3 separate regions of the Homo sapiens genome follow, and all the other regions are reported to be linked to region 2. Evidence: microRNA targets listed by miRTarBase, many of them from high-throughput screens and not tested one by one. Region 2 holds a microRNA gene; each other region holds the end of a gene's coding sequence.

What was found. The annotated mature microRNA hsa-miR-613 reads AGGAAUGUUCCUUCUUUGCC and lies in region 2 at 5,308-5,327, opposite strand. An mRNA with a match to its seed (bases 2 to 7 or 8) in the 3' UTR can be bound and repressed. Matches are read on the target gene's strand: a 7mer-m8 pairs with bases 2 to 8, a 7mer-A1 pairs with bases 2 to 7 and ends in A, and an 8mer does both.
Region 1: the mRNA of TIMP3 is a reported target of hsa-miR-613. Seed matches in the 3' UTR shown: 8mer at 7,914-7,921 and 7mer-A1 at 7,299-7,305.
Region 3: miRTarBase lists SMKR1 as a target of hsa-miR-613. Seed matches in the 3' UTR shown: 7mer-m8 at 2,638-2,644.

What each region holds. Positions count from the first base shown.
Region 1 is chr22:32,858,259-32,868,437 of GRCh38, reverse strand. TIMP3 (TIMP metallopeptidase inhibitor 3) reads right to left here. Exons shown (of 5, transcript NM_000362.5): 5 at 5,397-9,258. The coding sequence ends at 9,061. It overlaps SYN3 (synapsin III), which reads left to right. Exons shown (of 14, transcript NM_003490.4): 6 at 3,434-3,523. Among named protein-coding and RNA genes, the nearest start is that of TIMP3, 62 kb to the right of the region's middle.
Region 2 is chr12:12,759,567-12,770,035 of GRCh38, reverse strand. It overlaps MIR613 (microRNA 613), which reads right to left and starts at 5,387; the gene lies at 5,293-5,387. It also overlaps a transcript of APOLD1 not described here.
Region 3 is chr7:129,510,212-129,520,680 of GRCh38, forward strand. SMKR1 (small lysine rich protein 1) reads left to right here. Exons shown (of 2, transcript NM_001195243.2): 2 at 2,036-2,707. The coding sequence ends at 2,230. Among named protein-coding and RNA genes, the nearest start is that of SMKR1, 13 kb to the left of the region's middle.

The DNA.
Region 1 (10,179 bases), not on the chromosome of region 2:
ATAAATGCATATACGTTAATATATACATGTTATATATTATACATGTTACATGTAATATATGATATATGATATTACATATATGTAATAATTGATCTTTGTAATATATAATATATAATACAGTGACAATATATGCTATTAATAATATATAATAACAAAACATGTTATTATATAACATTATGATATGGTGTTATGTTATAATATTAGTCATAAAGATGCACCATATTGTTTTATGAACATTCTATCATTATTGTTAACAGCAGACTCCATTTATTGAGCACTTACTATGTCCCAGAAAACTATGCTACCTGGCACTCAAACTGTCGCTCTCGTGTGAAGTGAGTGTCAACCCTTCATTTTACAGAGATGGAAGCTCAGCTTCAGGCCACTTAAGGAACTTGCTCAGTGAGTGGTGAGGCCACAATTTAAGCCATCTCTCTCTCCAACACCCAACATTTAATTTCTCTTCTTTTATTCCTTAGTTTCAGTCATTCATTTGATTTATTTGAGTTTCCATCCAAATGTTACCTGTAAGAAAGACTTCTTAAAATACCACTCCTCGCCAGACACGGTGGCTCACGCCTGTAATCCCAGCACTTTGGGAGGCCGAGGCGGGTGTATCACGAGATCAAGAGATCGAGACCATGCTGGCCAACATGGTGAAACCCCGTCTCTACTAAAAACACAAGAATTAGCTGGGCGTGGTGGCGTGCACCTGTAGTCCCAGCTACTCGGGAGTCTGAGGCAGGAGAATTGCTTGAACCCAGGAGGTGGAGGTTGCAGAGAGCTGAGATTGCGCCACTGCGCTCCAGCCTGGTGACAGAGCAAGACTCCATCTCAAAGAAAAAATACCACTCCTCCACTCGCTCAAGTACTCTCAAATCCCTTACCCTGCTTTATTTTTTTCCTAGATACTTATCTCCACCTAGAATGATAAATTTATCCATTCATTTGTGCATTATCTGTCTCCCTGATTAGAAGTTATTCGTTCATGTAGCAAATACTTCTTGGGCACTTACTGTGTTCCAGGTGCTGTTGTAAGTCCTAGAAACATAGCAGTGAACAAATCAGACCAAAATCCCTGCCCTGTGGATCTTACATTCTAGTGAGCAGGGGCATGTGCGGTGCTTTAATACTTATGCCAAATATGCAATATGTCCTATGATCAGTGGCAAGGGGGAAGATCAAGGACAGAAAGAGGATAGGTAATGTGGAGGCTTGGGGTATGTAGAAAGTGCTCTATGAAGCTCATAGCTGTCTGGTCTGTGGTGTTTTGCTATCTCTCTGTGTGATCACCTGGTGGTGTAGGGTGGTAGTTGAGAGTGTGAGCTCTGAAGCCAGATTCCTAGGTCCAGGCTTCTCCACTTATGAGCTGTGTTACTCGAGCAGCAACCCCATTAACCTCTCTGAACTTAGCTTCCTTATTTGGAAAGTGGTGGTAGTAATAGCGCCTTCCTGGTAGGGTTATGATTTAATAGATGAAAACGCTTAGAATGTGGCTGGCACAAAGTACACACTCAATAAGTGGTAAAAATTTTCACTGCCTTAGATACCTGGAACAAGTTCCATGTAGAGTTGGAACACTCAGTACTTACTGAATGGCTACATGCATTAATTTAATAGGTATGGATAGAATTTACCACTATTGTCATGGCCCTGGTCTCCTTCTCATTCTGCCCTAACTGGGCTTTTTGGCCAATGGCATCCAAGATTTTCGAGTGCCACTGTTAGGAAAGGGTCCTAGATGGTGTTAGCCCTTCCCCACCTTTTATCACAGTTATCACGATAGTAGCAACCACAACTCATCAGCACTAGCCGTGTGCTATCCTGAGCCCTTAACGTGCATATTGTGTTTAATTCTTAGCACCCTTATGAGTAGGAGTTGCTAATATCTCCATCTTACAGATGAGGAAACTGAGGCTCACATAGCTAGTAGAAAGTGGTAGAGCTAGGCCTCTTCAAAACTCATGTGCTTACCTGCGGAATCACTCTCCCTTTCTGGACTCCAATTTCCTTGTCTGCAAAATGAGGGACCCCACACACACATACATCGTTTTCCATATTTCTGAGTTCTCTTAAACCCTCGAAGTTGACTCCCTGTTGTGCTGCATCTGAAGGCTATACCCCAAGAGTTTGCAGACCAATCTTGGGTGGATGCAGAAAGTTCCTAGTTACTCTGTTTTCAGTGTCCAGGCTCTTAGTATTGAGTGACCTCCAAGTCAGGTTGGCCACTCCTTTAACCACTGGGCATCCACATGGGACCACAAATTCCAGTTGATTCCTTTATCTTGTTCGGAATCTGATTTGCTCTTCTCTGCTTATATCCACCAGCAGCTCTCCTTCACCTTCTGGGTGAATTCTAAGCTTTCTGGTCAGGCCTTTAAGGCTGGTGGTCTGTGATGGATCATGCTTCCACCTCGTCTCTCATCATCACCTGCAACTGACGCCACAGCATGGCAGCTGCAGAGGGTCTCCAGCATACATTAGTCTCAATGCACACCCGGAGGGCCCTTTCTCCTTCTCTTATGTCGTCTGCTCCAGGGGATCATCCTGACTCCCTACTCTGTCCCCCTTCCAGGTCCCTTCACCCCCTATGCTTCCCTCCAGCAAGATATTAGTGTCACAGCCATGCACCTGCAGCCTGTCTTCCTTCAGGCCTTGCCCCCATATTCAGCTTGTTGCTCCAATAATAAAGCATAGCGACAGAGCTCACCTTTGAGCTCCGGAGACAGTAGCTAGTATCTGGCAAAACAAGCAAGTGTTGAAGCAGGAGGAGAGCAGTGGGAAGGGATGTGGCTTGAGCTGTTGGAAATGAGAGGGGTTGCAACAGCAGAGAAAATATTTATTAATATAACACCTAGCATTTTAGCACTGCTGTGGACAAAGCACTGCCTCTGACACACTGTATCCTTACAACAATCCCATGAGGTTGGATCTCCAGTTTACGAGTGAAGAAACGAAAGCTCAGAAACCTGAATTGACTTCCCAGGTTATACAGCTAGTAAGTGGCAAAGCAAGAATTTGAACCCAGGAAGGCTGGATCCACATCTAACACCATCAATTACCATGCAGCGCTGCCTCTCTAGAAAGAAGGTATGGCAGGCAAGGAGCAGGGCATGAACATCAGCAGGTGGAGAAGGACATGGTGTGAAATGCTGAGGCTATAGTAAGTGCTCATTAAATATGGTTGGGCTGAACCCAGTGTTCTGCCTACTTACTAGGTCTTGGGCAGAAATGGAGGGGTTAATATGGCTAGATGATGGAGAGGATGAATGTCCAGCCAAGGAATCTGGTCTTTATCCTATAGGCAGGGTAGGATAGCACCTACTGAAGCTCGGCTCAGAACAGTCAGATGCTTGAGGCCTCAGATCAAGTGGGAGGTTTTGTTATACTGGGTGACAATAGTTGATCAATGTTCTCTCCTCTTCTATCCTAGTTCTCTCAGCTCATTAAGATCTTCCATTCCCTGGGTCCTGAGAAGTTCCCGCTTGTGGAGCAAACATTTTTCCCCAACCATAAGCCAATGGTGAGTGCCCTTTTTTACTCTGTTTCTTTGCATGATGCGGAATGAATACAGATGACTTGTCCTCGGTCTCTTTGGATGGAGGAGGTGGACTCTAGGGGTTGTACACTGACCACGCAGACTCTAAGGCGGAGTCACAGTGTCCTGTGGGAGTGCCTGGATTTCCTAAGGGAAGTCGTCTCTCCAGGTGAAATTCAGGCAATAGGGCAAATAACAAAGGTGAACCACATTCCTTGGAACTTGGAGATTTTCAGCAAATCAGGGGACACGTTCTGGGGGCATGTTAGAACCAGAGGCTGATTATAAAGGTAAAAGATGTTTTCAAGGTGGGATGTTGTTTTACTTGAGCCTTTTGTGGAACCTGATTTCAACTCATATTTTAATAAAAAGCAGTAATATTAATATTTGATTTGCATTGGTTGTTGAAGGGCAGTTTCCTTACATGTCCTCTTCACTTTCCAATTTCTGAATGCACCTGAGATCTCCTCTGGGAAGCAGGGCTTAGCTCAGGATATGTGGTACAGCCTCCCATTTGGAGGATACCTGGGTGGAAGAGGTGAATGTCTTTCTGAATGAGGTGAAGGGTTCTCCACCTGAAGCCAGAAAGTGTTGGGGGGAGGAGCTCTAAGCAGCAGGAAAGAGCCTGCAACATGCCTGCTTGCATAGTTGATGGTCTTCGTAAACTGGTCAAAGGAATTCAAGGCTGTGACCCTGCGCTTGGCCTTGCAGGGAATGCGTCTTTGGGAACAGAATAATGAATAGAGTATACCATAGTCCCAGGTGGGGACTTACTGTGGCTGTTTGTAGAGTCCAAGCTCAGGCTTCTGGGCTAGACAGTCCTGTTTGGAGATACTGATGGGTAGGACTGCAGATTTCAGGAGTAATCACTCTAACCAAGCAGAATTTCTATTGATGATCTTTCCCCTGTATCTGATCGGGCAAGAGTCACAGAATCCAGAACATGCTGGTTGAGATAAGAAGGGCACATGTGAAACCCAGCATATCCCCAAACCCTGGATTTTTCTTACTGTATGCATCCTTACAGTGGGGAAAATTCAGAGTTCATTATCAAACTAGCCTGAATTTGAATGCCAGTTCTGTCTACACACTAGGTCTCAGGAAAATGACTTTATCTCTGTGAGCCCCAACTTCTTCAGGTAAAAACCGTGGATGATTGTGGAGCAACCTCATCGAGTAGTCAGGATTTCATGAGATCCTGTATATAAAGTGCTGTACCTGGCATATAGTAGGAGTAGCTTTAAAACAAGGGTGAAAACCTAGAACGTTGTCAATGGTGGGATGAAAGTCAGGCGAGGGGTCTGCAGCCAGCCCAGCCCATTGACAGTGAGAGGCCCTGCTGTATACTCTGAAAGGAGGTTGTTATAAGCTCTGGGAAAAGGTCACCAGCTGTCGTGAGACCTCATGAGTTCCTGGTGTTCCCAACTAGGCCAAGCCATACTTGGAATTTCAAGCAGGCAGTTGACATCAAGGACTGCTGTTTGCAGGCCGCCCCTCCCCACCTCCACCAGGTTGGGATTCTTAGGAAGAAAACAAGGAGGGCTGAGTAAGGACTCCAGTCTGGGGGTACTTGTACCACCAATAGGTGATTAGGTACAGATATATTAATACATCCAGATTCAGCAGAACTAGGGAGGACTCTAGCAATAGAATCAGGGAGCAAAGTCAAGGCAGGGCACCTCTCCTAAGATTCCTTCTGCAAGGGAAAAGGACTGGAGCAGGGTGGGGCCAGGCCATAGCGGTGCATGGAGGGAGGGATGTGTCCAGGCCTGGAGCTGGGGATAGACTTTCAAGGCCTGCTGGTGTATACATAACTCCCCGTGGCGTCAGAACACAACAAGGCAAGAGACAGCAGATGTGTGATAGAAATAAAACCACTTTACTGTTTAGAATAAAGGACACACTATAAAAAGTGAACATTATGCAACATTACAAGACAATATACATTCACGGAATATAAAATTCATAAATAACATGGAGGAAAACTGTAAACAGTGCTACGAAATTTAGCAACAAATACATTCCTTCTAGACAGGGTTCGAGATCTCTTGTTGGTTTCTCTCCATCACTTCTGGGTTTCAGGACAGCAGACTGGCTAAAGGGAAAGGCGGATGCTGGGAGAATCTAAGAAGCCTCTACCCCCAAAGCAAAAACTATTCTCCAAGTTCTCCCCTTCCTCTCGCCTCCAAAGAGCCAATTTGGAAGTTGTTGTCACATCCACCTCCCCTACTTTCCATTTTGTTTTGCTTTTGCCATCAGATTTTTATAATGTTTGTCTCTCATAAAAATACTCTAGTGACATGTTAACCTTAGGTAGCCAGAAGCCAAACACTTGGGTGCCATCTTGGGGTAGTCCAGATTGTCAATTGTCACATGCAAGACAGAGGTCTGGGGCATGGAAGGGTAGTGTCTCCTGGGGGCCACAGTTTGCCCTAGACAGGGCTATTCCAAAAAGTCATTTGTTTCTTTAATTGTTCAAGAACCATGTTGCCACCATGAGGCAGGTCTGGAACGAGGGGAGGGTAAAAGACAGGAGTCTCCCAGTATTACCTACCCTGGACAGAGCAGAGCACTGGCCCGAGAGCTGAGAGCCTGAGCATGGAGCTTCCTTGATTGGGAGGCAGAAGAGATGCCCAAAGGAGGAAGCGAGAACTTGGAATTGTATCTCCCATGGCCCTGGATTCTTAGGAAAATCATGGCTTCCCAACTGGATGGGCAGCAGGACTTGGGGTGAAGTAAATGGTAGACTACCCAGGGCCGAGTGACACAGAACAAGAACATGAATGTAGTTTAAACTTTTTTCCTACTCCAGGAGCCATTGGGATTCCAATAGGGAGGAGGCTGGAGGAGTCTCAGTTACTAGTTCCTTCTATTTCCCCCAATTCACCAGTCTAGCTGCTTGCCTAGAAGTATTTTCCTCTCCATTCCACTGCAGAATTTGATTCAGGAAAATGGCGGCATGTGGGTTTCATTTTTCTCTTAAACACAATGTACACATATTACAGCCTACACATGACACAAGATTTAGCAAAATAAAATGTTCATGATATGATTGAAATACAGAAGTGTCTCAGCTACATAAATGATTTTAAATTATACAGTAAGTGAACGGGTGAAATAAACAAAGCTATAGCTTATAGAAAGCTCAAAACCGCCCTCTGACATCGCTTTGCGAAAGACCCTTCTTTGCCCAGGGCCTCCTCACCAAGGCCTAACAGATGGGGATGTGGTTCTGCTAATTTATCGACTCCGCAGGGAAACTTCAGGTGCCTCACACTCAGCCTTCACCCAAGTTCCTCCTTGTGTGAGAGAGGCTGACCACACCAGGGAGTGCGAATGGCCAGATGCCTCACAGAGAAGACACTGATGTCCACTTGTGGGAGGGAACTTGTGTAGGTTGGTCAGGGGCCCCACCATGCGAGACCTTGAGGTTAAAATAAGGACAATCCCAAAACATCAAGTCTGGGCTCATCCCTTCAAAACCAGTGACATGCTGGCATCAGCTTCTGCTCACACTGCCTCACAAAGAAGGCCAAGCCTCCCATTCTCCCCCTGCCAAATGGCATGACCACAATGGGAAAGGTACACGGTAATGAAATTGATCCCAAGGAAACCCGATGCCGGTACTCTCTTCCCACTCTGCGGTTCTGCCAAGCACCTTGCCTGGGCACTTGTGTGTGTGCAAGACTCTACAGTGTGTTGTCTGCTGCTTTTTTTTTTTTTCTTCTTCTGTTTCAATTGGCAGCTCTGTTTCCTAAAGTGGAATGAACTGAAGATACAAATACTAATAGAAGATAAATACCCATAAGCTGAAAAAAGAGACAGAGAGCAATCATGTTCAATGTCACCATCCTGCCAACCCCCACTCTGTAAAATATACATTATCACCTACTCTCAGCATCTCACTTTTGACACTAAAACTTAAAATAATTTTATTTAATAGGAGAATTTATATTATAGTTTTATTTCAAAAAAAAAAAAAAAAACACAACAGAAACCCTACAACTGGTTGCAAACTCAGGCTTTCCCCAGTGACCAACAATTTTAATTCCAAGAGGTGAGGATCTCAGGAGGTGGCATTCACCCACCAGGGAGCTAGGGAAAGGGAACCAAGCTGTCTCCACACCCAGGAGAGGTGTCCCTCCAGCCAAGGCAGGCAGGACACTCTGCAGCTCTCCCTCCTGTGCCCAGGCCCTTGACTACACTCTCATCTGCCATCTGAGCTAAGCCAGGAAGGCAGTTAAAGAAAGGCCCCCAAACATGAAGCAGGGACAAGGAGACGGACAGGGGTCAGATGACCCATGATAGGGAAGAGAGGGTGCTGACGGTGTTCAGAATTTCAAATTTTAATTAAAATGAAAAAAAAATGTCAACTTGGAATGTCATGATTTTCTTCAAACAAGCAACGACAACAAAATAGAAGAGATTAAACTATTGGCATATTTAACAGCATTGAACAGAATTCTGTGTCCTGTAAAAAAATTAGCTTATGTCCCCATGTGGGTATATGCAAATGTGTATACAAACATATCCCCCTAGGTGAGCTAAACACTATTCTGGAAATAGTATCCTCTACCCAAATCTACTTGGCTATATCTGTGGATAGTGTATGGTGTGTGTATTTATCCAATTTACATAAAAGAAAGCTCCTGGCCAAATCTACCAAAGCGTTTTCCAGGAGGAAGTCTGGTGGGAGGCAGGGAGAGGAAAGACATTCATCTCAGTCTTTCACCTGAGCTTTTGTACAAGGCAGGCAAATTGCCTCCTGACCTCAGGCAGATGTTTAAGTCTTCACCAACTAAGAAAGCTCTGTTATTCTGGCCTGGGTGCTTGCTCCAGACTCAGGAACATCTGGTCAACACAAGCATCACTGGGCTGGGGAATTGTGTGTGTGCTGCATCATCTCCGACTCTCTTGTAGTTCCTTCCTTCCCTCCCTCACTCTTACATGCAGACACAGACAGACACAGTCTGGTTGGGACATGCAGTGGCAGCTCCTGGTGTATAACATCTTTCACACACCTTGAGTCTATCTGCTTGCTGCCTTTGACTGATCCTGAAATGGTTGGCCTTTCAGCAAGTTCCTTGTCTGTGTCCTTTATGTATTGGAGGAGAAGGGCAAAGGGAAGAGGGTCTGGGAGATGGTGAGGTGGGGAAGAAGCAAGAGGGGTGGGAATTACAATCCTCAAATGGAGTAGTTTTTCATTTTTGTTTTCCTAAAAAAATAGAGATTATATTATCACGAAGAAGAGGAATACAGGTTCCTCATTCTTTCTGGCATGGCACCAGAAATTCCCAGGTGGAAATGAATGATGTCAAAACCAAAAAGAAGGGGCAGGGTGGGGCCAGGAGGATAGTTCCCAATAAACCCCATATGACAGCATAGACCTTTCTTTAAATGTTCCAAGTGCTAAATTTGCAAGAAAACAGGCACTAATTTCATTGTCATCATCTGGGAAGAGTTAGTGTCCAAGGGAAGCTCAGCGGGAAGGGAGGGAAGTGAGGTGGGGCAGGGTCTGGCGCTCAGGGGTCTGTGGCATTGATGATGCTTTTATCCGGGGGGGCCCATCCTCGGTACCAGCTGCAGTAGCCGCCCTTCTGCCGGATGCAGGCGTAGTGTTTGGACTGGTAGCCAGGGTAACCGAAATTGGAGAGCATGTCGGTCCAGAGACACTCGTTCTTGGAAGTCACAAAGCAAGGCAGGTAGTAGCAGGACTTGATCTGCAATTAGATAACAGGCAGCAGTTGATGGACTCTGCCATGGTATGCCCAGGCCTGAGGCTACCGAGCCTGGATTCAGACCCTGGGGCCACTGCATGGGAAGCCTAGCCACATCAGTCCCTCAGTGATCATAATATAAATAGCACTAGCTTGAGCATCTGCTGTCTAACAGACATTCTGATAAGTGCTTTGATATTATTCTCTTTAATTCTTATCACAGTTTTAGGAGGCTCTGAGAGGTTAAGTAACTTGCTGCAGGTCACACAGCCAGTAAGTAGCAGAATTAGACTACTGAGAGGACTTTTTCGTCTCAGGTGGGAGATCTCAGTTGTTTTAGGGAATCGAGGAATTAGAAAGGTTAGAGCATAAACTTTGGAGTCTAGCTGCCCTAGGTTGGAAACCAGATTCAGTGAACTGTGGGACCTAGGGCTAGTTACTTAAGTTCTCTGAGCTCTCATCTGCAGAATGGAGATCATAGTAATTAAAACCACACAGGACTGTTTTGAAGATGAAGTGAGAGAATGGCCCAACTTCCTCCCACAGCAGGCAGGCTGCACCTTGGCCCTATACTTGGGTCAGGGGGATGGGCCTGGTAAAGAGAGACCTTCTGTAGCATCTGGTCTCTGCAGTCCTGGGCCCATTTGCCTACCTGGGGTGGGGTTAGCGATGAGTCAGCTACCAGGGTGAGCCCACTTGAAACCACTTGGGAGAACCTGCCAGTGTCAGGATCCTATACCTCCAGCCTTGAACTGCCAGGTGGGGCCAGGGACTCAAGAGCCCTCATGCCCCAGCAGCTTCCAAGTGGTCATCATGGAGGCAGCCGATTACAGCAGAAAGGCATTCTTCCTTCCCTGCCTTCCTCACTGCCCCACCTGGGGCAACAATCCTTACTATATCTGCTCAGACCTGCCCCTCTGCCCT
Region 2 (10,469 bases):
ATCTGGTTCTGATGCTTGCTTTGTCTCTTCAAACTATGTTTTTTTGCCTTTTAGTATACTTTGTAATTTTTTCTTGATAGCCAGGCATGATGTTTTGGGCTAAAGAAACTACTGTAAATAGGACTTTAGTAATGTGGTGGCAAGGTGTGGAGGGAAAGGAAGCATTCTACAGTCCGATAATTAGGTCTCAGTCTTTTAGTGAGCCTATGTCTCTGGACTGTGAACTTCACAGGTGCTTCTCAGTCTCCCCCTCTCCTTAGGTGGGACAACATAGCTAGACTAGGCTGGAGTTGGGTATTTCCCTTCCCCCAGATCAGTTAGGCTGTTATAAAACCCCAGCAGGTTAGGCTCCAGTTAAGTAATTTCTCCTGAGGGAAGACCTTGTTCTTAAGAACAGAATGCTCTAGGGCATTTCAAGATGGTTCCTTTTCCTCTCCCCTTGTTGGAAGCATGAGAGGATCGTTTGCAAAATTCACTGTGAGAACCTAGTAGAGCCCCTGGAGGTAAAACTACAAAAGTGTGGGAGCCTCCCAATAAAGTTTTTATCTCACAGACTTGTCCACACCAAGCCTCCAGCAATTTGTCAATTACAGTTCAGGTTTTCCCACTCCAGCACTGATTCCCATGAAGATTTCTGCTCCAGTAATTAAGTTGTGATTATCTGCATTCACCTGTGTTTCCAATTTGGGGTTTACTCTATGACCTCCCATCTCTTATGGATCTAAGAAGAGCTGTTGATTTTTCAGTTTACTCAGCTTTTTACTTGCTAAGATGGAGTGGTGACTTTTTTTTTTTTTTTTTTTTTTTTAGCTGGAGGTCTTGCTCTGTTGCCCAGGCTGTAGTGCAGTGGTATAATCATGGCCCACTGCAGCCTTAATTGCCTAGGCTCAAGTGATCCTTCCACCTCAGCCTCCCAAGTAACTGGGACTACAGGCATGTGCCACCACGACTGGCTAATTTTTGTATAGTTGGTAAAGATGGGGTTTTGCCACGTTGCTCCAGCTGGTCTTGAACTCCTGGGCTCAAGTAATCCTTTTGCCTCAGCCTCCCAAAGTGCTGGGATTGCAGGCATGAGCTACGGTGCCCAGCCAGGAGTAGTGACTTCTGAGCTCCTTACATGCCAGAATGGAAACTAATGTTCCTAATCCACTTTTTTTCCCTGAAAATGTAGCACTTTAAAAGTCATTTCTGCCTTTACTTTCAATGCTAAAAAAAAAAAAGTAAACTACCTTTGAAAAAGGTAGGAGGCATTTTCTATAAGTTAGGCCTCTGCACATAAAGTGAAAACGAGGAGTTTGAGTCCTAAGTCTGTGGTTTGTGTGTGACTTCAAGCAAGTGACTTGACTTATTGAGACTCAATTGCTTTTTTTTTTTTTTAATTTAAGAGATGAGGTCTTGCTGTGTTGCCCAGGCTGGAGTGCAGTGGCGTGATTAGCGCTTACTGCCACCTTGAATTCCTGGTCTCAAGCAATCTTTCCAACTCAACCTCCTGAGTAGCTGGGACTCCACAGGTGCATGACACCTGGTTGGTTTTTTTGTTTTGTTTTGTTTTGTTTTTAATTTTCTGTAGAGATTGGGACTCCCTAGGTTTCCCAGTCTGGTCTCGAACTCCTGGACTCAAATGATCTTCCTGCCTCAGCCTCCCAAAGTGCTGGGATTACAGGCATGAGCCACTGCACTCAGCCTCAATTGCTTTTACAAGGTTTTATTTATTATATTGGAAAGGGAATATGGAAACCCTGTGAGACCTACACAATGTGGTGCAATTATCAGGTATTCTTACCTTTTTTCAAGCCAGTAACTATTTTTTACATCTAGTTATCTGTGACCTTTTCAATTGTTCAATATTTGTACAGTTGTCCCTCAGCATCCATGGGAGTTTGGTTTGAGGACTCCCCACAGATACCAAAATCCACAGAAGTTCAAGATCCTTGTATAAAATTGCATAGTAGGCCGGGCACGGTGGCTTACACCTGTAATCCCAGCACTTTGGGATGCCGAGGCAGGCAGATCCCGAGGTCAGGAGTTCAAGACCAGCCTGACCAATATGGTGAAACCCCCGTCTCTACTAAAAATAAAAAAATTAGCCAGTCATGGTGGCACGTGCCTGTAGTCCCAGCTACTCGGGAGGCTGAGGCAGAAGAATCACTTGAACCCAGGAGGCGGAGGTTTCAGTGAGCCGAGATCACACCACTACACTCCAGCCCGAGTGACAGAGTGAGACTCCGTCAAAAAAAAAAGGCATAGGATTTGCGTATAACCTACTCACCTCCTTTCATGTACTTTAAATCATCTATAAATTACATATAATACCTAATACAATGTAAGTGCTATGTAAATAGTTGTTATACTAGTTTTGTTTTTGTTTTTGTTTTGTTTTGAGACATAGTCTCCCTCTGTAGCCCAGGCTGGAGTGCAGTGGCACGATCTCACTGCAACCTCCGCCTCCCGGGTTCAAGCAATTCTCATGCTTCAGCTTCACGAGTAGCTGAAATTATAGGCGCGGGCCCCCACACCCATCTAATTTTTCTATTTTTAGTAGAGATGGGTTTTGCCCCATTGGCCAGGCTACTTTCAACCTCTTGACCTCAAGTGACCCACCCACCTCGGCCTCCCAAAGTGCTGGGATTACAGGTGTGAGCCACCGCACCTGGCCAATTTTTTAATGTGTATTATTTTTATTATTGTACGGTTGTTTTTAATTTTTCTGAATAACTCCAATCAGTGGTTGGTTTAATTCACAAATGCAGAACTCACAAATACAGAGGGCCAACTCTTATTTATTTTGTGGAGACGGAATCTTGCTCTGTCACCCAAGCTGGAGTGCACTGGCGTGGTCTTGGCACACTGCAACCTCCACCTCCCAAATTCAAGCAATTCTCCTGCCTCAGCCTCCTGAGTAGCTGGGACTATAGGCATGCACCACCACACCCGGCTGATTTTTGTATTTTTAATAGAGATGAGGTTTCACCATATTTGTTAGGCTGGTCTCGAACTCCTGACCTCCGGTGATCCACCCACCTTGGCCTCCCAAACTGCTGAGATTACAGGCATGAGCCACTGCACCCAGCCCAGGGGGCCAACTCTTATTTATTATTCTGATAGTATATGCCAGCTGATTTACCAGCTAATTCTTTTTTTCTGTTTATTTGTTTTGTTTTGTTGTTTTAGTTTGTTTTGTTGTTTTTTGTTTTTGAGACATAGTTTCACTCTGTCACCCAGGTTGGAGTGTGCTCTTGGCTCACTGCAACCTCCACCTCCCGGGTTCAAGCGATTCTCCTGCCTCAGCCTCCTGAGTAATTGGGATTACAGGCACGTGCCACCACACTCAGCTAATTTTTGTATTTTTAGTAGGGTCAGGGTTTCGCCATGTTGGCCAGGCTGGTCTCAAACTCCTGACCTTAGGTGATCCAGGCAGATAACCTCAGCCTCTCAAAGTGCTGAGATTACAGGTGTCAGTCACCCTGTCTGGCCCCAGCTGATTTTATATCAGTGTTTTACTATTGCCTTTTTATGGCTCTCTCAGAAATCTCTTTTTAAATTTTTTAGCTGTGGGGCAATGCAAAAGTGATTTTTAGCTCATCAATCTATAATATTCTTTGTCCTTTGTGCAACTGTAGTAGGCAGCTTGGGAACTTATGGCCCCCACCTTAACCTGACAACATCTCTTTATCTCCATTTAAAATATTCCAGTATCTTGGTACTATATTACATGATCCTGCCCACTGACTATAGCTAATTGGACTAAAGGTAGACATCCAAACCAAATTTGCCAATCAAATTCTTTCAAGATTTTGGAATATGGACCTAAAGAGAGTTGAGGCAGTCTTCTCAATGACTGGAACTGAAATATGGAACTCAGGATCTGTGAAGCAGCCATATTATTCCCATTATATTCCCCCAAGAGCAGAGAAAGTTTGTTTTGTTTACTGGAGAAAATTAAGAGATAAGGTCCTGAGAGGCAAACAGAGAGTCTTAACTTTTATTTCCTGCCATCATTCCATTTTATGAGCCATTCATATATTCCTATTTTTTCAACTCCCCTTTTATTCCTTGAGTGACTTGATTTCTGATCTTTGCAACAGAGGATCCTAACCAACACTAGAGCACAGAAGATCTACTCTTTGACTTTGACATTTTGTTCTTGTTGTTTTTTGGGTGTTTTTGAGACAGCACCTCACTCTGTTGCTCAGACTGGACGACAGTGGTGCACTCGTGGCTCACTGCAGCCTCAACCTACCAGGCTCAAGAGATCCTAATACCTCAGCCTCCTGAGAAGCTGGGACTATAGGTTTGTGCCACCACACCCAGCTAATTTTTGATTTTTTGTAGAGATGGGGTTTCACCATGTTGCCCAGGCTGGTCTTGAATTCCTGGGCTCAAGCAATCCTCCCACCTTGGCCTCCCAAAGTGCTGGGATTACAGGCCTGAGCCACCATGCCCAGCCTACACTTTGGCTTTAATGTTAACAGAATTAACATAGATTTCTAAAAGTGTTTCCTCTCTGCAGTGCCCTTAAGTGAATTAAATGTTTAATAACCATTTAGGGGTTTTCTTACCTTTGTCTTCGCCTTAAGTGTAACAGTGCTTTCTTTTTATGCAAAATATAGTTTATCTTTATTCATTTAATCACAAAAAATGCATAATTCTTATAACAAATTTCTATAATATAAAAATATATTGAGCCGGGTGTGGTGATATGAGACTGTAGTTCCAGCTACTCAGGAGGCTGGGGTGGGAGGATCACTTGACCCCAGGAGTTCGAGTCCAGCCTGGGCAACATAGCAAGACCTCATCTCTAATTTTTAAAATGAAACTTTCATTCCTTCCTCTCTGGTTCCTCTTCACCTTCCATCATGATTGGAGGCTTCCTGAGCCCTTCATCAGAAGCAGATGCTGGTCTTTGCCTCTTATACAGCCTGCAGAACCAGGAAGACTACATTTCCCAGCACTCCCTTGCATAAAACTCCTCTCCCAGTCTCTCAGGCTCCTTCTCTCTTCCTCTACATGGCTGGAAATGAAGGTTCCAAGATGGCAGATGCACAGGATGGGAGAAGCCCTGATCCCTGAATTTGCTGCTTAGAGAAGAGCTGCTCTGGTGAACTCTCAGGCCAGGAACATCAGCATGAATAAGAAACAAATCTTTATTGCATTAAGCCATTGAGAGTTCAGGGTTTATTTGTTAGCCCAGCAGAGTTTATTCTATCCCCATACCATGCTGTGGCCTTCCTTACTCTTCACTGGCATGGAGAATCACATCCACCTGGGGAAGAACACCATGTGAGATGCACATAAAGGTGTATGAGTGGCAAAGAAGGAACATTCCTACTGTATTGTATATAAGACACTACAGGAAGGGTCCCTTCACACTTGGAAACGCACTCACCGAGAAATCAACCAATAAAGCCCACACCTAGTAGAAATAGAAAATATATTATAAAAATTAAAATATAGAAAGTTAGAAATAAATCCTTCTCCATCTGTTTTCACCCTCTAGAGGTAATACTGAGGTTTATAGTTTGCTATGTGTTCTTACATAATGCTGATGTTTATACAACCATGTGCATTTCACATATGTGGTTGTGGTTTTCTTTTACAAAAATAGCATATTATATATTGCTATGCAACTTTTTTTCCACTTAAAAAACATAACATAAACATCATCAGGGAGAATTGGGGAGATATTGGTCAAAGCATATAAAATTTCATTTAGGGGGAATACATTCAACAGATCTTTTGTACAACATGGTAACTATAGTTAATAATGTACTGTAGCCAGACACGGTGGCTCATGCCTGTAATCCCAGCACTTTGGGAGGCCGAGATGGGTGGATCACCTGAGGCCAGGAGTTCAAGACTACCCTGCCCAACATGGCGAAACCCTGTCACTACTAAAAATACAAAAATTAGCCGGACATGGTGGCAGGCACCTGCAATCCCAGCTACTTGGGAGGCTGAGGCATGAGAACTGTTTGAACCCGGGAGGCAGAGGTTGCAGTGAGCCGAGATCACACCACTGCACTCCAGCCTGGGTGACAGAGTGAAACTCCATCTCAATAAATAAATAAATAAATAAATAAAAATAATGTGCTATATATAGTCAGTCCTCTGGATCCTCAGGTTTTCCATCCATGATTCTACCAATCTCATATCAAAAATATTTGGGAAAAAAAACTTAAAAATAATACAAACTTAAAAAGATAGTATAACAACCATTTATATAACACATATTATATAAGGTATTATAGGTAATCTAGAGATGATTTAAAGTATAGACATCCCCCTCATATAAGTGGGGGATTGGTTCCAGGACCCCCTGTAGATACAGAAATGCGAGGATGCTAAAGTCCCATATAAAATGGTATAGCGTTTGCATATAACCTATGTACATCCTCCCTATCCTTTAAATCATCTCCAGATTACTTATAATACCTGATAGAATGCAAATGCTACATAGTTATTATACTTCATTGCTTTTTATTTGTATTATTTTTTATTGTTGTATTGTTTTCCCCCCCCCCACACACAATATTTTCAATTTCTGGTTGGTTGAATCCACAGATGCAGAACCCACAGATAACAAAAGCCAACTATATATTGGAAGATGTGCATAGGTTATACACAAATACTACACTTTTTTTAATAAGGTACTTGAACATTCCCCAAATTTTGGAATTCACAGGGTGTCCCGGAACCAATTTTTCTTGGATATGGGGGGATAATTGTACTTAGGAATTGTTAAGAGGGTAGTTTTTAAATGTTCTCGCCGCATACAAAAAAAAATGTGAGGTAATGAATATGTTAATTAGCTTGATTTAGCCATCTCACAATGCACACATATATCTAAACATCATGCTGTGCACAATGAGTATATACAACTTTTATTGTCAATTAAAAATAATTTTTTTTCTTGAGACAGGGTCTTGCTCTGTCACCCAGACTAGAGTGAAATCATGACTCACTGCAGCCTCTGCTTCTCAGGCTCAAGCAATCCTCCCATCTCAGCCTCTGGAGTAGCTGGGACTACTACACCCGGCTTTTAAAATTTTTCTTTTAGAGACAGGGTCTTACTATGTTGCCCAGGCTGGTCTTCAACTCCTGAGATCAAGAAATCCTCTTGCCTCAGCCTCCCAAAGTGCTGGGGTTACAGGTGTGAGCTACGGCGCCCAGGCTAATTGATTTCAAAACCAAAAATACCCTCAAAACATCATGCTAGTCATTCTCTATCTTCATGGGCCATATTTGTCCTTTCTCTCTGGCCAGTGGACCACTTTACTCAGGCTCCCATGCCAAATGTTTCCGAGTGGGTTCAGCCAATCAAAGGTCACTGCAGAGGTCTCTGCAGCAAAATATCAGAGAATAAAAGGAAAAAAGTCAGGGTAAGGCTGGGCGTGGTGGCTCACACCTGTAATCCCAGTACTTTGGGAGGCTGAGGTGGATGGATCACGAGGTCAGGAGTTCAAGACCAGCCTAGCTAACATGGTGAAACCCCATCTCTACTAAAAATACAAAAATTAGCTGGGTGTGGTGGTGCGCGTCTATAATCCCAGCTCCTCGAGAGGCTGAGGCAGGAGAATTGCTTGAACCTGGGAGGCAGAGGTTGCAGTGAGCCGAGATAGTGCCATTGCATTCTAGCTCTGAGTGGCAGAGCAAGACTCCATCTCGGAAAAAAATAAAAAATAAATTAATTAATTTTAAAAAGTCAGGGTATTCCTTCCTTGTTTCCTACCTGCATCAGCTCTGTCTTTTGCAGTGGCTGTCTCCATCCTTAGCTATAACTCCCTGGGTGGCCCTGCCTCCATGGTTCCAAATTTCACTGGGCTCCTACTGTGCTATGCCCTCTCCTTTGTACCTGAGGCCTTAGGAATGGGCATCACTTTCCACCATTGCTAGTCTCTAGGCACTTCACCATCCCTTCTTTGTTTGCTTGGCACCTAACCTCTGTAAGTAAACTCTTCCTTAAAAATGTCTTCATTTGCAGCCTGGGCAACATAGCAAGATCCCACCTCTACAAAAAGAAATTCAAAAAATTAGCCAGGCATGGTGGTGGTGCACACCTGTAGTCCCAGCTACTTGGGAGGCTGGGTCAATAGGATTGCTTAAACTCAGGAGTTGAAGGTTGCAGTGAGCTATGATCACACCACTGCACTTAGGCCTGGGTGACAGAGCAAGACTCTCTCTCTCTCTCTCTCTCTCTCTCTCTCTATACATATACATATATGTATATGTTCATGTATATATATATGTTCATTCAAACCATTTGGGGGTGAGTTCTGTTCCCTTCCAGCACCCTCTCATATACAGACATTTTTCCAAGGTGATACATGTGGCTGTCACTCATTTTAGGGACAGGTCATGATTTGCTAATTCATTCCTTTGTTGATAGACATTTATCATATTTTCAACTGAATTATATATTAGAAACAATGGTGCAGTGAACATCCTTGTGTGTGAGTATGTGTGTGTGTATATGCTTATGAGTATTTCTGTAGGGAAGACTCCTCAAATTGAAATTGCTTGAACAAAAGGCATACATATTTTGAATTTGATAAATATTTTCTTTCCCTACTGAGTAGAGATTAAACAATTTCCTCTCCCTGGAACACACTTACAACTAATGAACAACAAACAAGCTATAGCCATGATAAATAAAAAAGTAAGGCTTTAGTCAAATAAGCATGTTTAGACCATTAATCCAAAAGAAATCATGGATATTTTTAAACCTAAAAATAAAGTAAGTCTTTATAAAGGAGTTTCTGAATCCTACAGCTATTCAGACAACATAATCCTTCAATCAGCTTTATTTCAAGGAAAGAGAACAATTTCTAACTGTTTGAACTAATCTGACCAGCAAAAGTTCCAGTAGTTCCCAAGTGTATTAGATTAAGCACATGATTAAAAATACAATTCAAAGAACACTCTGATGCTAAATTTTAGTGTATGTTCACATAATATATAACTTCTATTCAGGACGCAGACACCAAGATGTTTGCTATCACATTCTAGGTTTAGGTTATAAGGTTTAACATCTCAAAAGCACGAATATGTTCCAAAGAGGCAAGACACATCTTCAATGAGCATTGTATGTAATAATAAGTTTTAAATGATCTAACTTTCCACCAGTAGGGGAATGGTTAAACTTTGGTATATCCTACTATGTACCAAGTTTTAAAATGTGCTTTACTGACTATTAGAGAGGTAGAGTAACTTTCATATGTTGGGGAAGGGGGTTGCCCTTTCAGATCCTTATATGTAAATGATCTATTCATATATTTTGCACATATTTCTATTGATTTGCCTTTTTTCTTATCCACATATAGAAGGTTTACTGTGGTATGGACATAAGGGTTTTGTTTGTTTGGTTGTTTGGTTGTTGGTTGTTTTTTTTTTTTTTTTGAGACAGAGTTTCGCTTTTGTCACCCAGGCTGGAGTGCAATGGCACTATCTCGGCTCACTGCAACCTCTGCCTCCCAGTTTCAAGTGATTCTCCTGCCTCAGCCTCCCAAGTAGCTGGGATTATAGGCGCCCAGAACCACGCCCGGCTAATTTTTTGTATTTTTAGTAAAGACGGGGTTTTGACATGTTGGGCAGGCTGGTCTCGAACTCCTGCCCTCAGGTGATCTGCCCACTTCGGCCTCCCAAACTGCTGGGATTACAGGCGTGAGCCACTGCACCCGGCCAAGGTTTTTGTTTGTTTGTTTGTTTGTTGTGAGACCGGGTCTCACTGTGTCACCCAGGCTGGAGTACAGTGGCACGATCATGGCTCACTGCAGCCTCTGCCTCCCAGGCTCAAGTGATCCTCCCATCTCAGCCTCCTGAGTAACTGGGACTGTGGGTGTGGTGGTTAATTTTTGTATCATTTGTAAAGAGGGGGTTTCGTCATGTTGCCCAGGCTGGTCTCGAACTCCTAGGCTCAAGTGATCCGCCTGCCTTGGCTTCCAAAAGTGCTGGGATGACAGGCATGAGCTGGACACAAGTTTTTTGTTATGTATATAACATGTCTACTTCTATTCAGTTGCTTGTCTTAATTTTTTTCATGGTGTTGTATAGTTCCGACATCATGTAATCAAATTATCAATCTATCAATATGGCTTTTTGCCTTTCTGCCTCTTCTAATAATCATAGACTCTTCTAGGGTTTTAATTTCACTTCTATTAATATTTGCCAATGGTAAGAAGTAGAAATTTAGCATCTTCCTCCAAATGGAAGGCCAATTATCCTAATGTCTTTCCTAGAAGTCCCAGTGAATGTCTTCTCATCTCCCGTTGGCTCTGGCCATGCCCATTTATAAACTAGTCACTCCCAACAGGGTAACTGGATATACTGACGTCAAGGCAGCCCGAGCTGCAGACGGGGTCAGTCCCTTCAACACACTTCAATAAGGCTAAATGAATGAAGAGTAATATCTCAAATAAATTTTGTGAAACTGTCCTTGTAGGAAGTGCGATAAATGCCGGCAGCAGCAACAA
Region 3 (10,469 bases), not on the chromosome of region 2:
CAGGTTGACAAGCTCAAAATGTAATAGTTTATTTCCAGATTAGGATGGTATCCATTTATTTTCCCAGAGAACACTGACCTTATGGGGTAGTCATGGAAAGAGAATAGACACCGAGCCTGGTGGACACTGGTTTCTGCATGCTGGGTAGCCTAACTGAGCCCCTACATTTCCATTTTGAAGGCAGGAATAATACATAGAAATACAGCTCTGAGTGTTGGTGGTGTTAAAGATGATGGCACAGGCCGGGCACAGTGGCTCAAGCCTGTAATCCCAGCACTTTGGGAGGCCAAGATGGGAAGCTCGTTTGAGACCAGGAGTTTAAGACCAGCCTAGGCAACATAGCGAGACTGTCTCTACCAAAAATAAATTAGCCAGAAATGGTGGCTAATGCCTGTGGTCCCAGCTACTTGGGCGGCTGAGGTGAGAGGATCGCTTGAGCCTGGAAGGTCAGGGTTACAGTAAGCTGAGTTTGTGCCACTGCACTCCAGCCTGGGTGACACAGCAAGACCCTGTCTCCAAAAAAAAGGAAGGTGATGACAGTCATCATTTATTGAGTATTTGTCTCACATCAGACATGGTGCTAAGTGTCTTTTTTTTTTTGCGGGGAGGCGGGGGGAGGCAGAGTCTCGCTCTGTCCCCCAGGCTGGAATGCAGTGGCGTGATCTCGGCTCACTGCAACCTCTGGCTCCTGGGTTCAGGCGATTCTTCTACCTCAGCCTCCTGAGCAGCTGGGATTACAGGCGCTTGCCACCATGCCCAGCTAGTTTTTGTATTTTTAGTAGAGACGGGGTTTCACCTTATTGGCCAGGCTGGTCTCGAACTTCCTGACCTCAGGTGATCCACCCGCCTTGGCCTTCCCAAGTGCTGGGATTACAGGCGTGAGCCACCGCGCCCAGCCTATGCTAAGTATCTTATATTTGTATCTCACTTAAACCTCATGACTGCTTAATGAGGTAGAGATTACTTGTAAAACAAGTGCCAACATACATATTTGCATCCTGATTATCAAACTTGTTTTAAATTTAATGTGTATTATGAAAATTTCCAAACATAAATGAAAATAAAATCATAAACTAAATCCTCATATAGCCATTTCTCAGATTCAGAAATAATTAGGATTTTGCCACATTTGCTTTATCTGTTTTTTCTGGGTCGGGGGCAGCGGGGGAGCTGAGTGTTTTAAAGCAAACCTCAGGCCTTCTTTCATTTCATCCCTACAGATTTCAGTGTGCACTTCAGAAACGTGTGGACTTCTTCTTCTGTGATTTGCTGCCATTGTCAGACCTAATAGAATTACTAATAATTCCTTGACATGATCAGATTTCCCTGATTAACTCAAAGACATCTTTTTGCAGCTTGTTCAAATAAGAATGCAAACAAGGGCCACAGCTTGCATTACGTTGGGTCTCTTTTAATCAGGGTGCTTAATAAACATTTGTCAAATTAGATTGCGTGTGACTTTCAGAAATTATTATAATTCTGGGTCAGAATTAAACTTTGCTCTCAAAAGGCAGTTCTAGTTGCATTAATTGTTTTCGTTTGCCAAAGGGGGTTTGTCATTTAGAGAAGACAGGACGATGCAAACTGTTTGTTGTGGCTGCTATTTTGACTTATTTCCTTTTAGGAATTTTTTTTCCTTGTTCAATACAGAAATACTGAAAATGATACCAAGTTTATAAAAACTAACTCGGCCTGGCAAGATGGCTCACACCTGTAATCCCAGCACTTTGGGAGTCTGAGGTGGGCAGATCACTTGAGGTCAGGAGTTTGTGAGCAGCCTACCCAACATGGTGAAACCCTGTCTCTACTAAAAGTACAAAAATTAGCCGGGAGTGATGGGGCACACCTTGTAATCCCAGCTACTTGGGAGGCCGAGGCAGGAGGATCACTTGAGCACGGGAGGTGGAGGTTGTAGTGAGCCAAGAGCATGTCACTACACTCCAGCCTGGGTGTTGGGAGTGAAACCCTGTCTCAAAAAAAACAAAAACCAAAAAACTAACTTCCCTCCTCCCATATTTATATTTGTCTTTGAAAGCCAGCTAAAGGGAAAAAAGGAAAAGGCCAGGGCAAGTCTCATGGGAAGAAACAGAAGAAACCAGAAGTGGACATTCTCAGCCCCGCGGCCATGCTGAACCTCTACTACATCGCCCACAACGTCGCTGACTGCCTGCATCTGCGAGGCTTCCATTGGCCGGGTGCTCCCAAAGGAAAGAAAGGGAGAAGCAAGTGACAGCATTTCACAACACATCTCTGTTACAGACAACAGGACCTGGGGAAGAGAAGTCAGGATAACACAACTGTTGCCAGCAACATAGACTTTACTCCAGACGACTTGAGATGCAAATTAAGTGTGCTTTTCTGTGATGGTGGAAGATCAGGAAATGCACCTTACTTCCTCTGTTATGCCAGATATGGTTAGCCACTTTGGTTTTTTAGGAGCTATAGGATGGGAAAAGCCTGAGTAATTCCTACACAGTGTGCTGAAATTAATAGAACTTTCAGAAATTATTATAATTCTGGGTCAGGATTAAACTTTGCTCTCAGAAGGCAGTTCTAGTTGCATTAATTGTTTTCTTTTGCCAAAGAGCGTTTGTCATTTAGAGAAGACACGGCAAGAAACACTGGGTTTCCTTAGGAACATTCCTCTCTTGGGCACCATTTCCTTTTTTTTTTTTAATGGAAAATAATAAATACTTTGTTTCTATAATTTTCTTCTCAGCAGTCTGACTCTGTTTGATTTGAATTAGCCACAGGCTCCACGGATGCTAAGATGGTCACGAATGCTCTGACCCTGCCAGTCTTGCAAGCAGATGGTGAGAAGTGGCTGACAGTGTGAAATGGCTGGATGCAGGGCAAAGGGGGCAAATCTGCCCATCCCTTTCTTTTTTCTTTTAAGACGGAGTCTCACTCTGTTGCCCAGGCTGGAGTGCAGTGGCGAAATCTCAGTTCACTGCAACCTCTGCCTCCCGGTTTCAAGCGATTCTCCTGCCTCAGGCTCCCAAGTAGCTGGGATTATAGGCGCACGCCACCAGCCCAGGCTAATTTTTTTATTTTTAGTAGAGATGGGGTTTCACCGTGTTGGCCAGGCTGGTCTTAAACTCCTGACCTCAGGTGATCTGCCCGCCTCGGTCTCCCAAAGTGATGGGATTATAGGCGTGAGCCACTGCACCCGCCTCAGTCTCCCAAAGTGCTGGGATTACAGGCATGAGCCACTGCACCTGCCTCAGCCTCCTAAAGTGTTTTATTACAGGTGAAAGCCATCGCACCTGGCCATCCCTCTTTTTTCCATATTTCACCTGACTCTTCTCCCTCCTTCCCTCCACACTCTATTTCGTCCCACCTTCTGCCTACTTTGTTAAAACTTGGCTGGCCCCGAGTTATAGAATTGGTGCCAGGCACTTACTTGCCCTGGGCATTCGGCTGATATTCTAGATCTCCCTAGCCCTGTAAGGAGACGCCTAAGAGGTGAAACTATAGTTCTTTCTCCTCGGCCCAGAGGCCTAAATTCTCCAGATGTGAAAGCCAGCGTTTTGCAAGTGCGGACGCCGTCTTTGACTCCCTGAGCACTCCATCCTTGCCTCCTGCTCTGTCTTCCTGGCTCTTCCTGCCCCTCCTCAGCCCCTGCACCGTTGTCTCCATTCATGGTTCTGAGCCCAAAGCTGACACACTGTAGGCAGCACCTCCGGGGATGTTCTAGTTTGTTGGAATTATAATTATGCTCCAGGTGGCCTTGTGAGGATCGCAAGGATTCATGAGGTTTGCTAAGGGAAGCTGCAACTCAGGACTCAGGATTTCATACACATCAGAGAAAAAAAGGAAGCTCCATGAATCTCTGTGCTAGAGAAGTGGGGTGCCCATGACCCACGTGAGCCTGTTGGGAACAATACTGTTTACCTGCACCATCTGTGCAGTTTCCATAGAAGCCCTTGGCCAGTTGCCAGAGGAGCCCTCACTTGGGTGAATCTGAAGGGAGGTCTCCTCTGCTGTGTTTTCTGGTTTTGGAGACGGGGAGCACCTTCCCACCCTGTTAAGGACTGCTGAACTCACTAACTCCAGTTCAGCAGTTCTCACACTTGAGTGTGCCTCTCGGTCACCTAGAACACTTGGCCAAGTGCAGATTGCTGGGCCCTACCCTCGCAGGAAGGATGGGGCTCAGGGATTTGCGTTTCTGGTACGCTGGCAGGTTATGCTGGTGCTGCCCAGCCACACAGGTAGAGAGCTGCCGCTCCAGTTAATGCTGCCTACCCAGAAGCTAAAAGGCTTAGTGGAATCCGAACCTGTGGGATGTGTAATGTCCTTTCCTGCCTCACCTGGGTTCAGGAGCGTGTATTTGAGTAGCTGGTTATTGGAAGTTTGGGGAGAAGGCAGCTGCAAAGCTTCCTTTTGATCCCTGACTGCCCGCACCTGCAAGGCTTCCATTGGCCGGGTGCTCCCAAGGGAAAGGGAGAAGCAAGTGACAGCATTTCACAACACGTCTCTGTTACAGAGAACAGGGCTTGGGGAAGAAAAGTCAGGATAACACAGCTATTGCCAGCAGCACAGACTTTACTCCAGACGACTTGAAATGCTGCTCATCTGTAGCACAGATACAGGCATTTACAGGCTAACAAGGTCTGAAAGTGGTCATGCTCTTTTCTTTTGAGATGATGAAATGATGAGCCAGGACTGTGAGTGCTGGGATGGGGGAAGCACTGGTCTGATTGGCCGGGGCACCGTGACTCAAGGCTCACCCCAGTTTAGCAGACTGCCTGAGGCTGTCTCAGTATTGTGCTCACTGGACCCCTGGGGTTCTGAGAGAAGCCATAAGAAATTTTGGGTTCTAATAGCCATGCTCTAGTGTTACCACATATACATAAAGTCATAAACATTACACACACGCTATATAAAGGTTATGATGCATTTTACTTTTTGAGAATTTTTTTTTTATTTTGGTGAAACGCTAAAAACTTTTTTCAACAAAAGCTATTTCAATACATTAATTGAGCATCTACTGTGCTTGGCACAAAGACAGCAAGACAGAATCCCTACTGATAAGATTTGGCTGTGTCCCCGGCCAAATCTCATATTGAATTGTAGCTCCTGTAATTTCCACGTGTTGTGGGAGGGTTTTGTGGGAGATAATTGAATCACGGCGGCAGTTTTCCCCATACTGTTCTCATGGTAGTGAATAAGTCTCACGAGATCTGATGGTTTTATAAGGGGTTTCCCCTTTCACTTGGCTCTCATTCTGTTTTGTCTGCTGCTGTGGCCGTGGGAGATGTGCCTTTCACCTTCCACTGTGATTGTGAGGCCTCCCCAGCCACGTGGAACTGTGAGTCTGTTAAACCTCTTTTTCTTTATAAGTTACCTAGTCTTGGGTGTGTCTTTATCAGCAGCATGAGAACAGACAAATACACTTACCCTCAAGGAGCTTCCAGTCTGGTCAAGAAGGCTACTACCCAGATTAACAGAGGGCAACTAAGTTTCTATTTCAACTTTGATAAAGTACATTCATGATGCAATTTATGAAGGTGATTAAGAGGAGGGTGGGATTAAGACCTCTGGAGGACATCCGGAGGATATCTGATGATAAAATATATACTTGAACCCTGCTGTTTTTACTTCCCCTAAACTCAAATTGGCAAGAATCCTGATTCTTGCTGCTTTTAAAGATTCAAAGAGGAGCTTGTGAAAGGCACAGTGTATTAGGTCATTTTGCATTGCTATAAAGAAATACCTGAGGTTGGCCGGGAGCGGTGGCTCACGCCTGTAATCCCAGCACTTTGGGAGGCCAAGGCGGGCGGGTCACAAGGTCAGGAGGTAGAGACCATCCTGGCTAACATGGTGAAACCCCGTCTCTACTAAAAATACAAAAATTAGCCGGGCGTGGTGGTGGGCGCCTGTAATCCCAGCTACTTGGGAGGCTGAGGCAGGAGAATGGCGTGAACCTGGGAGGCAGAGCATGCAGTGAGCCAAGATGGCGCCACTGCACTCCAGCCTTGGTGACAGAGCGAGAGTCTATCTCAAAAAAAAAAAAAAAAAAAGAAATACCTGAGGCCAAGGCAGGCGGATCACTTGAAGCCAGGAGTTTGAGACCAGCCTGGCCAACTTGGTGAAACCCCATCTCTACCAAAAATACAAAAATTAGCCAGGCATGGTGGTGTGTGTCTGTAGTCCCAGCTACTCAAGAGGCTGAGTCAGGAGAATCGCTTGAACCAGGGAGGGAGAGGTTGCAGTGAGATGAGATCGCACCACTGCACTCCAGCCTGGGCAACAGAGTAAGACTCTGTCTCAAAAACAAAACAAAACAAAAAACAACCTGAGCCTGGGTAATTGATAAAGAAAAGAGGTTTAATTGGCTCACAGTTCTGCAGGCTGTACAAGCATGACACCAGCATCTGCTGGGCTTCTGGGGAGGCCTTCAGGAGCTTTTACTTTTGGCAAAAGGGTGCAGGCACACCACATGCCTAGAGCAGGAGCAAAAGAGAGAGGAGTGTGGGGAGGTGCCACATACTTTTTTTTTTTTTTTTTTTTTTGAGAGGAAGTCTCGCTCTGTCGCCCAGGCTGGAGTGCAGTGGCGCCATCTCGGCTCACTGCAAGCTCTGCCTCCCGGGTTCACGCCATTCTCCTGCCTCAGCCTCCCGAGTAGCTGGGACTACAGGCGCCCGCCACCACGCCCGGCTAATGTTTTTGCATTTTTAGTAGAGACGGGGTTTCACCGTGTTAGCCAGGATGGTCTCGATCTCCTGACCTCGTGATCCGCCCACCTCAGCCTCCCAAAGTGCTGCGATTACAGGCGTGAGCCACCGCGCCCAGCCAGTGCCACATACTTTTAAACAACTAGATCTGGAAAGAACTCACTATCTCGAGAACAGCACCAATCCATGCAGGATCCATCCCCATGACCCAAACACCTCCACCAGGCCGCACCTCCAACACTGGGGATTACAATTCCACATGAGATTTGGGCAGGGACAAATATAAGCAGTGATAGGTACGTCCACATACAGGTCATGAGGGCTACCTGGAGGAGGCAACAGCTGAAGTGAAGGCCTTGCTGTGAAGCTATGGGGGCTTTTTATGAGGAAGGCTCTATGCAAGGGTGAGGATGGATATGGGGCTTGATGGTTAGAAAGTGGGAGAGAAGGGAACGGTGACTGCAGGAATAGAAAAAATGTCCACAGAGGAGGAAGGAGGACATGGCAGTCACATGTGGATGGGGAATTTTCCATTACAAATCTGATGATAGAATCCAAAGAGACAGTGACAAGTGTCAGCGAGGGTGGGAAAAATTGCAACCCTCATGCGTTGCTGGTGGGGATATAAAATGGAGCCGCTGTGGAAGACAGTTTGGCAGCCACTCAGAACTAAGTAGAGTTACCATACAGCTCAGCAATTCTACTCCCAGGTACACGCCCAGAGAACTGAACACACGGTCACACAACATCTTGTACATAAGCCAAGCACAGTGGTGCTCGCCTATAGTCCCAGCTACTCAGGAGGCTGAGGCCAGAGGGTATCTTGAACCCAGGAGTTCGAGGCCAGCCTGAATAACACAGCAAGACCCTGTCTCAAAGATACCAAAAAAACAAAGCAAAACTTACATACAAATGTTTATTACAGCATTCTTCATAATAGCCAAAAAGTGAAAACAACCCAAATGCCCATCAACAACAGATAAAATGGGGTCTCTCCATACAATGGAATATTATTTAAACATAAAAAGGAATGAAATGGTGATATGTGCTACACCGCATAGATGAACCTTGAAAACACCGTGCTAAGTGAAAGACGCCAGATACAGAGGCCACATATTGTGTGATTCCATTTAGATGAAATACTCACACAGACAAAGCCCTAGAGACAGGACGTGGATTAGTGAGTGCCAGGGGGAAATGAGAAGTAGTGGCTGCTAATGGGTCTTTAACCTTTGGGTCCTTTTTTGCGTGGTAAACATGTTCTGGAATTCAATAGTAGTGACGGTTGCATAACCTTGTGACTATACTAAAAACCACTAAGCTGTACATTTAAAAGGGTGAATTTGATGGTATGTGAATCATGTCTCAAGCTGATGACAACTAGAAAAGGTCCAACAAGACTGAGAGAGAAAGAGGAGGCAAGTCCCAGATACCAGAGCAGGTGGCCCCAACAGAGACGAGGCCACGGAAGAGGGAACAGGGCCCGGTCAGACCCCTGCAGCCAGATCCTGGGACAGAGAAACTTGGGAGCTGTGGCAGGAGGGACCACAGACCCAAGGTGTCTGCAGACCTGAGGGAGGACTGACGATGTTCCTGCCAGGGCTGAACTCATCTTAAAAGAAAAAAAAAAAAAAAGGCCGGGCACGGTGGCTCACACCTGTAATCTCAGCACTTTGGGGGACTGAGGTGGGCAAATCACTTGAGGTCAGGAGTTTGAGTCCAGCCTAGCCAACGTGGTGAAACCCCATCTCTACTAAAAATACAAAAATGATCCAAGTGTGGTGGTGGGCGTCTGTAATCCTAGCTGCTCGAGAGGCTGAGACAGGAGAATTGCTTGAACCCGGAAGGTAGAGGTTGTGGTGAGCTGGGATCATGCCACTGCACTCCAGCCTGGGTGACCGAGTGAGACTCCATCTCAAAAAAAAAAAGGACTACAATAAATTCCATCTCTAACAACTTTTTTTTGAGTCAAGGTATCACTCTGTCACCCAGGCTGGAATGCAGTGGTGTGATCATGGCTCACTGTAGCCTTGACCTCCCAGGCTCAAGCAGACTTCCCACTTCAGCCTCTGAGTAGCTGGGACTATAGGCATGTACCACCACGCCTGGCTAATTTTGTTTATTATTATTTTTTTTAGAGAGACGAGCTCTCACTATGATGCCCAGGCTGGTCTTGAACTCCTGGGCTTGAGCGATCCTCCTGCCTCAGGCTCCCAAAATGCTGGGATCATAGGCATGAGCTACCACACCCAGGCCTCCAACAACTTCTTATATTTTGTTTTATTCTTTTAGTTTATCCCTTATTTATTTATTTAATTCATTAGTAATAAAGCCAATCAAACTTTTTAAAATGTGCCATTTTATCCTGGAATACATCAGTATCCTTGATGATGATGATGATGATTATTATTATTATTATTAGTTTTGAGACAGGGTCTCGCTCTGTCACCCAGGCTGCAGTCCAGGGGCGTGATCTCAGCTCACCACAACCTCTGCCTCCCAGGTTCAGGCGATTCTCCTGCCTCAGCCTCCTGAGTAGCTGGGACCACAGGCGCGTGCCACCATGCCCGGCTAATTTTTTGTATTTTTAGCACAGACGGGATTTCACCGTGTTAGCCAGGATGGTCTTGATCTCCTGACCTCATGATCTGCCCCCTTCGGCCTCCCAAAGTGCTAGGATTACAGGTGTGAGCCACTGCACCTGGCCTCTTTGATATTTTAAACAGGTAGCTTTGCACTCTAACTCCAGGCATGTTCCTGCTGTGATTGTTACTCTGTGGCTGTCTGTCAAGGGCCCACCTTGCTGGGAGAGATGTGGTTTCCACTCTTGCTACACCCTTCTCCTCTCCCCCAATACCCTCCAGCGACCTCTGTTTTGACAAGTCTGGGCATGGCCCTGTCTCCCACCTCCATTCTGCTCCCATTCTGTCCTCTCTTTTTGTTCTCGTTTTCCTTGTTTGCCATATTCCCTGAATACAAAATCACCAGGGCTTCACTGGCTTCATGGTAAATCCCTCTGCAGGTCTCAACTCCAAGGTCACTTCCTCGGCAACATCTTCTCATGGTCAGGCCCACTGTCTTAGTCCCTTCCCGCTGCTATGACATAATACCTGGGCCTGGATAACGGATCAAAACAGAAATTTACTTCTCACAGTTCTGGCAGCTGTGAAGCCCAAGGTCAAGGTGCCAGCAGGTTCAGTATCTGGTGAGGGCTGCTCTCTGCTTTCAAGATGTCACCTTATTGCTGCATTCTTTGGAGTGGAGAAATGCTATGTCCTCATATGGAGGAAGGTAGAAGGGCAAGTGGCCAAATGCTACATGAAGCCTCTTTTTTTTTTTTTTTTTTTTTTTTTTGAGACAGAGTCTCACTCTGTGCCCAGGCTGGAGTGCAGTGGTGTGAAATCGGCTCACTGCAAACTCCACCTCCCAGCTTTATGAAATTCTCTGCCTCAGCCTCCCGAATAGCTGGTATTACAGGTGCGTGCCACCACGCCTGCTAATTTTTTGTATTTTTAGTAGAGACGAGGTTTCAGCATCTTGGCCAAGCTGGTCTTGAACTCCTGACCTCGTGATCCACCCGCCTTGTCCTTGCAAAGTGCTGGGATTACAGGTGTGAGCCACCATGCCCCGCCACATGAAGCCTCTTTTATAAGGACCTTAATCCATCCCGTGGGAGGAACCCTCAAGTTCTAATCACCTCTTAAAGGCCCCACATCTTAATACTATCACATTGGCAATGCCAGGTTTTTGGAGGGGACACATTCAAACCATAGCACCTGCCTTCCCCAAACC